Linked DNA regions of Homo sapiens: regions 2 and 3 are each linked to region 1. Evidence: fine-mapped expression QTL. A gene starts in region 1. Each other region holds a variant in brackets. All regions are shown on one strand. Distances are from middle to middle. Region 1 holds the start of ARHGEF37 (Rho guanine nucleotide exchange factor 37). Region 2 holds the start of LOC124901104. Region 3 overlaps ARHGEF37 (Rho guanine nucleotide exchange factor 37).

What was found. PIP is the estimated chance that this variant, and not a neighbour inherited with it, causes the effect. A credible set is the group of variants that fine-mapping cannot tell apart.
Region 2: its variant is the best candidate, but not a certain one, in a credible set for the expression of ARHGEF37 in sigmoid colon (GTEx, PIP 0.79).
Region 3: its variant is the best candidate, but not a certain one, in a credible set for the expression of ARHGEF37 in cerebellum (GTEx, PIP 0.54).

Annotation. Positions count from the first base shown.
Region 1 is chr5:149,580,382-149,583,141 of GRCh38, reverse strand. ARHGEF37 (Rho guanine nucleotide exchange factor 37) reads right to left here and starts at 1,644. Exons shown (of 13, transcript NM_001001669.3): 1 at 1,518-1,644. RefSeq lists a silencer at 1,594-1,773 and an enhancer at 1,854-1,983.
Region 2 is chr5:149,639,070-149,641,829 of GRCh38, reverse strand. It overlaps LOC124901104, which reads left to right and starts at 349. Exons shown (of 3, transcript XR_007058990.1): 1 at 349-558; 2 at 682-831. The variant A/G (reference allele first, on the strand shown) is at 1,373.
Region 3 is chr5:149,625,935-149,628,694 of GRCh38, reverse strand. It overlaps ARHGEF37 (Rho guanine nucleotide exchange factor 37), which reads right to left. Exons shown (of 13, transcript NM_001001669.3): 11 at 1,424-1,619. Among named protein-coding and RNA genes, the nearest start is that of ARHGEF37, 46 kb to the right of the region's middle. The variant G/A (reference allele first, on the strand shown) is at 1,199.

The sequences.
Region 1 (2,760 bases):
GAAAAAACAACAACAAAAAAACGGGGTGTTGACCCCATTTGAAAGAGGCAAGTGAAGCCCAGTAAACACTCCTTGTTACAGTATCTGGTAGTTTCTACTTTCAGCTTTTGACTTGGAGTCAAATATTGAGGGTAGTACCTTGCTGCACCCTTATTTAGGATACCATCACGAAGGTATGTGGTGTGGTCTGTAAGTCATAATAGGGCTGACTTTATTTTTTCATGTTTATAATTTTTTAAATTGTATTTTATTTCAGATACAGCCCAATTTCTTCCAGGTCATCACCCTTTCCTAATTCCCACAGCTTTGATGATTTTGTGTGTCATCACTTTTTTTTTTAATTAATTAAATTAAATTTTAAACTGTGTACATAATAGATGTACATAGTTTCAGGGTACCTGTGATACTTTAATATATTTATAAAGATCAAATCAGTGTACTTGGGATATCCATCACTTTAAATATTTGTCTTTATGCTAGAACCATTCAAATTATTCTCTTCTAGCTATTTTGAAATATACAATAGATTATTGTAAACTATAGTCACCCTATAATCGTCAGCACTTTTATTGAGCATATATTATGTCAAGCACTAGCCTTTATGTTCATTCTTAAGTCTGACAATAACCTGGAGGATGAAGCAGACACTCTCATCCCCCGTCTACACATAAAACTAGGCCTTGAAAAGGTTAAACTATGCTTCCTGGATCACACAGCTGGCTGTCTGGACGCACAGCAGGTACTCCTCCACCAGCTGCCTCCCTTCAAAGGAGCAAAGAAAGTGCTCTGAAACCACCCTGCCTGAGTAGCAGCCTGCAGGCATTCCTTACAGCAGGAATTCATGTCAAATCTCAAACTGTGCACAAGGCTTTGTGTGAACCCTTCTGCTGGGAGTGGACACAGATCTCTAAGGGGTCAGGGACCCCCAGAAGGTTAAGAACCAGTGCCTGGGCAGGCTGTCTGCTTCCCCACTGTAAGTTTCTGGCGTTCAGAAGCCGGACGTTCTGACTTCTAGTCCCAGCTTTGGCACGACTTTTCTGAGGGACCTTAGCCAAGTCACCTCACCTATGGATCACGGATTTCTGTTCTCTTTTTTCCTGGCCTTGACTGTCTATTCATAATTATATTTTGCTTGGCAAGGATTCTTTACCATTGTTTGTATTTTTCCGTTGTTATAATGTATGCATTCTTTCTAAAAGCTGTCTGAAATCCTGCACGGAAGAAGGCAGAGAGAAACAGGAACAAAGAATAATAATGTTTTTCCAGGCCGGCTAACCTCCCTGGGCCTCAGTTTCCCACCTGTAAAACGACTAGGGTAGGCCATATGGACCAGGTGGCTTACATTCTCATAAGGCTCAAGACACAAAGCTAGCTACCAAGCAAGTTGGGACCCGGGAGGTCGTCGCATCCTGCCTTTCTGTCCCACCTCCCTTTTCTGATCCTCCCAGCAGCTGTTTCCTGCACCCCTCTCCAGCCCCATCCTGCTTGACCAGGCCCCAAACGCCCAGCGGACTCACCCGCGCGCGCAAGGTGCCTGCCGGCGCTCACGCACGGAGGTCGGCCGCCCGGGCAACAGCGCAGCCGGGGCAGGAGGGGCGCGTCGCCCAGCTCCCGGCACCCGCGCCGCTCCGGGTGGCTGTGCCCACCGAGGGCGCTGGCGGGCGCGGCTATGCCCACGCAGCTGCCTGCGTGCGTGCGCCGCGAGGGGGTGGCTGGTCTCCAGCCTTTGTTAATTGTCTTTCTGGAGCCAGGTTGTTTTCTGTTCGCTGCTCCCGGAGTCAGCCCCGGCCGGCTCGGAACCGTGCCCTGGCTGGCAGCCAACCCGAAGGATTGCAGGCGGAGTTTAGCGACGTGCCGGCACCCACCCTCCCGCGGCCTCTCATTAAGCCACCTTCTCCGCGGGCTCGTCATCCAGAAAACAGGAGCCGGCATTTAGGCCACCCGGTGGGAATGCTGACCCCGGTATTACTGGATACCTTTGCTCCTGCCCGAATCACCAAACTGTAGGGCTGGGCCTCAATTTAATTCTTAGTGTTGGCTGCCGAGGAGCCCTTGGTTCTTGCCCCAGCTCTCCTGGGAGCCCTGCACAACCTTAGCCAAGTCGGCCAGTCGCTTCCATGACATGACGGTGTTGGTCCATTCTTTCACTCTACTGGGAGCAAGACACTGTTCTGGGCACAGAGAACACAACAGTTAACACGATAGACAAGGTCCTGGCCTTATTGGGCTCCTGTGCAAGACACTAAACCCACCATTGAAAGTGATAGTTGCTATGAAACGCATGTAAAGTTTCATATCGGGGCAACCAAACCTTGTTTGTAGCGTCAGGAATGGACTAGATTAGCTTTTCTCATTCTGCCACTTCTTTTATTCTTATTTTCATTTTTAGGGCTTAATTTAGGGCTTATTATTTATTATTACTGCTGGTAGTAGTCATATTGCTTACTAAGGGCCAGGCGCTATACTAAATGTTTTACTTGTACTGTCTCAATTATCTCATTCACAATTTCTCTAAGAGATAGGTATCATTATTATTATCCTCATTTTCAAGAGAGAGAAACTTAAGCTACAGAGGTGAAAATAACTTGCCCATGACACACAACTACTAAGTGACAGTGCCAGTATTCGAATTCAGACTATCTGAGGGTTCAGGCTGCTTAACCACCACTCTACACTCAGAAAAACATGAAAACCAGAAAAGTGTCTCCTCTTGAATGTGACAGATGAGGGCAACTGAAGGGGAGAGGGGTGGTATAGCTT
Region 2 (2,760 bases), 59 kb before region 1:
CTCAGCTAATTTTTGTATTTTTTTGGAGAGACGGGGTTTCACCATGTTGCCCAGGCTGGTCTCGAACTCCTGGACTCAAGCAATCCTCCCGTCTTGGCCTCTCAAAGTGCTGAGACTTTAGGTGTGAACCACTGTGCCTGGTCTGTGTTTGCATTTGTATTTTATGGTTGCTGTTCTGACCCATGACTTTTTCGGGGAGCAGGGAGGATGAAAAATGAAAATAAAAGCATTTAGAAAGATGATTAAAAAATTAAAAAACAAAAAAGTAGGGGGAAGGTGCACTCCCACACGCCGGCCAATCAGCTGCAACCGCACCATCAGCAGACCGGGGAGGCGCCTGGAGCCTGCAGTAACTCAAGATGGCCGACTGATCGCCAGAGAGTATTTGAGGACATGGTTACAGTTACGTTCCCAGGGGAACAACCTTTGGCCTCTTAAGACATCTACTTGCTTTCAGTTTTGAAAGAACTCAGGCAGCCATGGGGTATTTTTCAGAATTCCCGGCGGTGAAGGGTCAGAGCCATGGGCATTAGGGAGAAAGCTGAAGGCACAGCGGGTGTGAGTGTGGGGTCGCTGCCTGCAACACTTGGAAGAAATACGGGGAAGGGCGGGGGAGGGATCAAAACTGGCTTGTGTGGCCAAGGATCAAGTTGTTATTAAGCACTTTTATGTGCCTGACAGAGTGCCAAAGTCTCCCGTGATGTATCCTGTGTCCACATCCCAACAACCCCATCGGCAGGACTCTTTCCTGGTTTGCCCACAAGGAGGAAAGTGAGGAAAGTGAGGCGTCAGAGAGATGAAGCAACTTGTTTGAAGGCGGCCACACAGCTGGTAAGTGTGGGGACAGGATTTGAACGAGGGTATTTTGCATGGGAAGTCTGGCCTTCTGGCTACCACCCCACCTCTTCATCCCAAGACACTCTCCCAAGTCTGGCCCCACATGGCTCCCTAAAACCATGCTGTCCTCATATGGGAGGGTTTTAAGCAGCTCTAGGGCAGCCACCAGAGCCCAATACAAAGTCCCTTGCACTGACAGTCATACTCTAACCCTGTGCCCAGTTCTCAATGCTGCCTCCTGCTATGATCTCTGTATCTTTCATCGGCCTGATCTCTCCTTCCCCAGAGCTTAGTGCTTGAACCCCAACCAAAGATTGAAACCCTGCTGCCCACAGTCTGACCTGGCTCTGACCTCTGACCTGCCTGGACACTAGGAGATGCCCATTCCCGTGTCCCACGGCAGCTCCAACTGCCTGATGGACACCTGCTGCCTCCCCCACATCCCTGGGGAGTGTGCCCCAGAATCACCATGCCCTCCCAACTCCCGTGATCCTTCACCTGACTCGGCCCTCTTCTAGCTGGATCTGTGTCCCCA[A/G]TTCCAGCCCTGCCCCAGGGGAGAGGCCTGGGGCTCCATCCAGACCACTAGTCTCATGACAGCCCAACAGCGTGAGGCCCATGGCAGCTGGCTGCTGTTGAGACTTGTGTTTGGTCTTTTAGCTTGCAGCTCTTGAGAGCTTCCTATGTGCCAGGCATTGAATTAGTCCTGTAAAGTGGATTCCCTCGTTTAACCTCAAACAGCCTTGTGAGTAGTGAATAGATGCTGCAGTTATTGCTATTAACGTGCTGCTCTATTCCCACACCAGAGGCTCTACTGATGTGCCCAGGAGCCCTGAGACCCCAAGACCAGCAGCTTCTGCCCTGGCCAGAAGCCCCATCCCACTTCCCATTTCCCAAACCTGGGGCTCACTGCCCCTTCTGAGTAGGGGCCAGACACATGCTGCTGAGGCATCATGGCTAGAAAATTGTGTTTCCTCCTCCCCTCCCCCAGGGCTGTAGGGCCTGGCCCTTCCCCAAACCCTGGCTCTGCACTGACACAGTGCCCTTGGATTTCCTCTGTGTTTGTCTGCTCTGGGCCTGGCAGTAATGGTCTCAGCCAGCCAAGACTGGGGCAGCTCAGCAGACTACCACAGCCACTGATACTGGAGCATGACCAGCTCAGTTCTTCTGGGACTGAAGACATTCCAAGAGCTCCATGTAGGAATGGCTGACAGCCCCCTGAACCAGGGAAGGTGCAGACAGACCTAGAGATGATTTCCATTGTTCCCCAAGGGCTGGGCTGCCTGAGGGACCAGGTACCAGGGAGGTGCCAGGGATCCCATAGCACCAAGACCCAGCCCCTCCCTGCAGCCCTGGCTTCTGAGTGGTATTTTGCTGTCCAGTCAGAAAGCAGAAACTACTCTATGCATTAGAACAGAAGGAATTTGGGCTGAGCGCGGTGGCTCACACCTGTAATCTTTGCACTTTGGGAGGCCTAGGTGGTCAGGAATTCCTGAGGTCAGGAATTCGAGACCAACCCGGCCAACATGGTGAAACCCTGTCTCTACTAAAAATACAAAAATTAGCCAGGAATGGCGGCGGGCACCTGTAATCCCAGCTACTCAGGAGCCCGAGGCAGGAGAATTGCTTGAACCTGAAGGAGCTGAAGGTTGCAGTAAGCAGAGATCATGCCACTGCACTCCAGCCTGGGTGACAGAGCGAGACTCCATCTAAAAATTTTTAAAAAGAACAGAAGGAATTCATTCTGGGGAGTAGGTTACACAGGTGAAAGATCTGAGAAGCACCCCAGAGATGAACAATAGCAAAAAGACATTACAACCCCTCCACTGGAGGGATGCGGGGAAGATCCTAGTGTCTAGGATCTGGTGTCACCAGACAGAAACTGGAAGCACAGCCAGGCCTGTTTGATGGGACGTGGGACCACAA
Region 3 (2,760 bases), 46 kb before region 1:
ACCAAAAGGTCATCTAGGAACCCTGAACCCCCCTGCCCCACACTCACCGTTTCTGGCTTCTGCTCACACACCCCAGTGATGGGGGGCTCATTCCCTACCGGACAGACGACTCCCTTTGATCAGCTATGATAGAGACTAAAAGTTTGTCCCTGGACTGGCATGAAAACTGCTTATCTGATGGAGCCGCCAGCTCCCATGCCCCTCTGGTGTCTGCCCAGAGCAAGAGCTGCTTCCTCTCCCCAGGACTGCCTTTCCTAGGAGGCGGAGACTGCCTTTCTCCTCTCCATGTGAGCCCAGTTCCTTTATGTGTAGCAACTAGTCCAGTGCTGTTCTGATTGCTGTCATTATGAATGGCTATCACTTCCTGAGGGTGTGCCAAACTACAGAGCAAGCATTTCATTACATAGTCTTCACATCACCTCTTGAGGGCAGCCAGTGATATTATCCTCTCCATTTTACGTTCAACCAGCCGAGCTCAGACTGGCTCCATGACTTCCCTGAGATCACACAGTCAGCAAAGTGGTGGAGCTGGAATCCAAATCCAGTCCTCTTGGCCTCGGGGGCCTTGCTTAATACCCGTTCTGTGGTTCCCACCTTAAGTCATGGAAGTGCTGTTTCATGATTTCTGTCTGATTTGTACCGCTTTCTTAATTTTTTAATTGACTCACTTTTTAAAACTTCATCTTGTACTATATACAATAATATGATTATAATCATGGAATTATGGACTACTTATATTTTTTCTAATACACATTAAAATGCTTAAGTAACAATTATAATACACTGTCTGAAGGGGGAAAAACTGTCTGTGGATCCCCTGACAATAATCTCAGGCACCCCTCATATTGTGGGTCACACACCCCTCTTCGGAAGATGCTCTCCTGGGCCATATCACCTGGATTCATGGTGCCACTTCCCTTCAGCCCAGTTACACTGGGGCACCCAGACCTCAGCAGCACTTCCCAAGGCCATGACCAGTATGGAGTGGGCAGGATGATCGCTCCCCTCATTCTGCACATCAGACTTCTGGCGGTGTAGCCAGGGTCCAGGCATTCTATCTCCGTGCCCATCTCCATCTTTCAGGGTGGTCCTGGAGTTCTCTCCATATAGCCCTGTTGACCTCAGTGGTCTGCAAGGCCCTCCAGGCAGGGGCCTTGTCTTATATGCTCAGCGCCCAGCACACCATAGGTGCTTCATG[G/A]TAGACCCTGCAACGAATGCCTCAATTCCTCTTGTTGGCTTTTCATGTCCCACGGAGTCACTCTAAACTGACTGTGCCCTGAGCCCTGTGTGTGTCACCTGTGCCTACTCCCATCCTGGAATGCCCAGCCAGACTTTGACCCACAAGAGTGCCCGGGTCTCTGCACCGGCTTCTGTGGGGTGGTTTTCCCCGAAGGAGAAGAAGGGCTCCCAAAGGCTCACGTACCCCCGGTGTCCACCAGCCAGCGGCCGCTGTTGCCTTTGGTGTCCTTGTTTTGAAGGATGGCCACGATTTGGCCCCGAGGCAGAGTCAGGTCCAGAGTCCCAGTCCCACTGATGTTGCTTGTCACCTGGTACAGCTTCCCAGGGCCATACCTGCTCAGGAGAGCCTGCACCTGGCGTTCAGACCCTGGAAGGAGCGGCTGGGAGAGGAGGAGCACAGACAGACACAAGTGCTTGAATAAACCTGTCAAAGCTGGCACCAACATTTGCTCACATTTTGACAGCCAGGAGTACTGGGCCTGATCCTAACTCTGCCACTGAAGGGCCCACCCTGATCAGGGCAACAGGGCCCTCACTAGCAGATGGCTGGCTCTTAGCAGCCTACGGCGTTTTGGAAGAAACTTCTAATTTCTGGGATTCTCTAAAATTCCAATTCAAGTTCTGAAATCTCTCAGTTACTGAACTCCTAGGATTGGGCCCTAAATTCTGCCCATACCGTCAGGGTAAGTTATCCCACAGCAGAATGCCCTGGACAGGTCTTTCAATTCCATTAGAGTGTGAGTTTCATGTGGGCACCAGACCTTATTCATCTGGTTTCTTAAATAGCCAGCCAGGGCCAGCACATGGCGGATTTCACATATGCAGGAACGAGGGCATGTAACCTTTGATTCCATGAGTTTTCAGTCCACAGGCATTTATGGAGCACCTGCCATTTACAGGGCACTGTGGAAAACTTTGAGAATGGTGTAGTAGAAATACAGGAGAGAGTTTTACCTAGACGAAATTGCCATCTAGCTGGAAAGAATGATTCGGTGGCACTTTCAGCTTATCCAAAAATCTCCTGGCATTTCCTGTTTTTCCATTGCATGATACTGCTTCCAGAAGAGTATCAACAAGGAGAGACTCAGGGATGCTTGTCCTCTTTTTGCAAAATCAATAAGAAACTAAATATGTTAAATATATATTTACTCTATGTCTTGAGAGAGGCGTGTGTGTGTGTGTGTGTGTGTGTGTGTGTGTGTGTGTGTGTGTGTTCACCATGCTCTATGTGGTTACTCCTTGTGGGGAGGTGCTGGGTGTGGGGAGGCAGGCAGAGATGCCCTTCAGGAACATTTGGCCACAGACTCTGCCACATCCTTGCCCCAAAGGGGATGGCGTCTCAGGATTTAGAACCAGGAGATCCCAATGTTTCTAAACAGGTCCTTAAACAGGAATGTAGAGACGAGGTAGTTTTCTTTGAGAACAGTGGTGTTGTGGTCATTTCTTTTAGGACAGTGATATGCATGTGAGTATAAGAGCCAGTGGTGTCACAAATGCTGGCCTTCTTTCTCAAGGCTGACC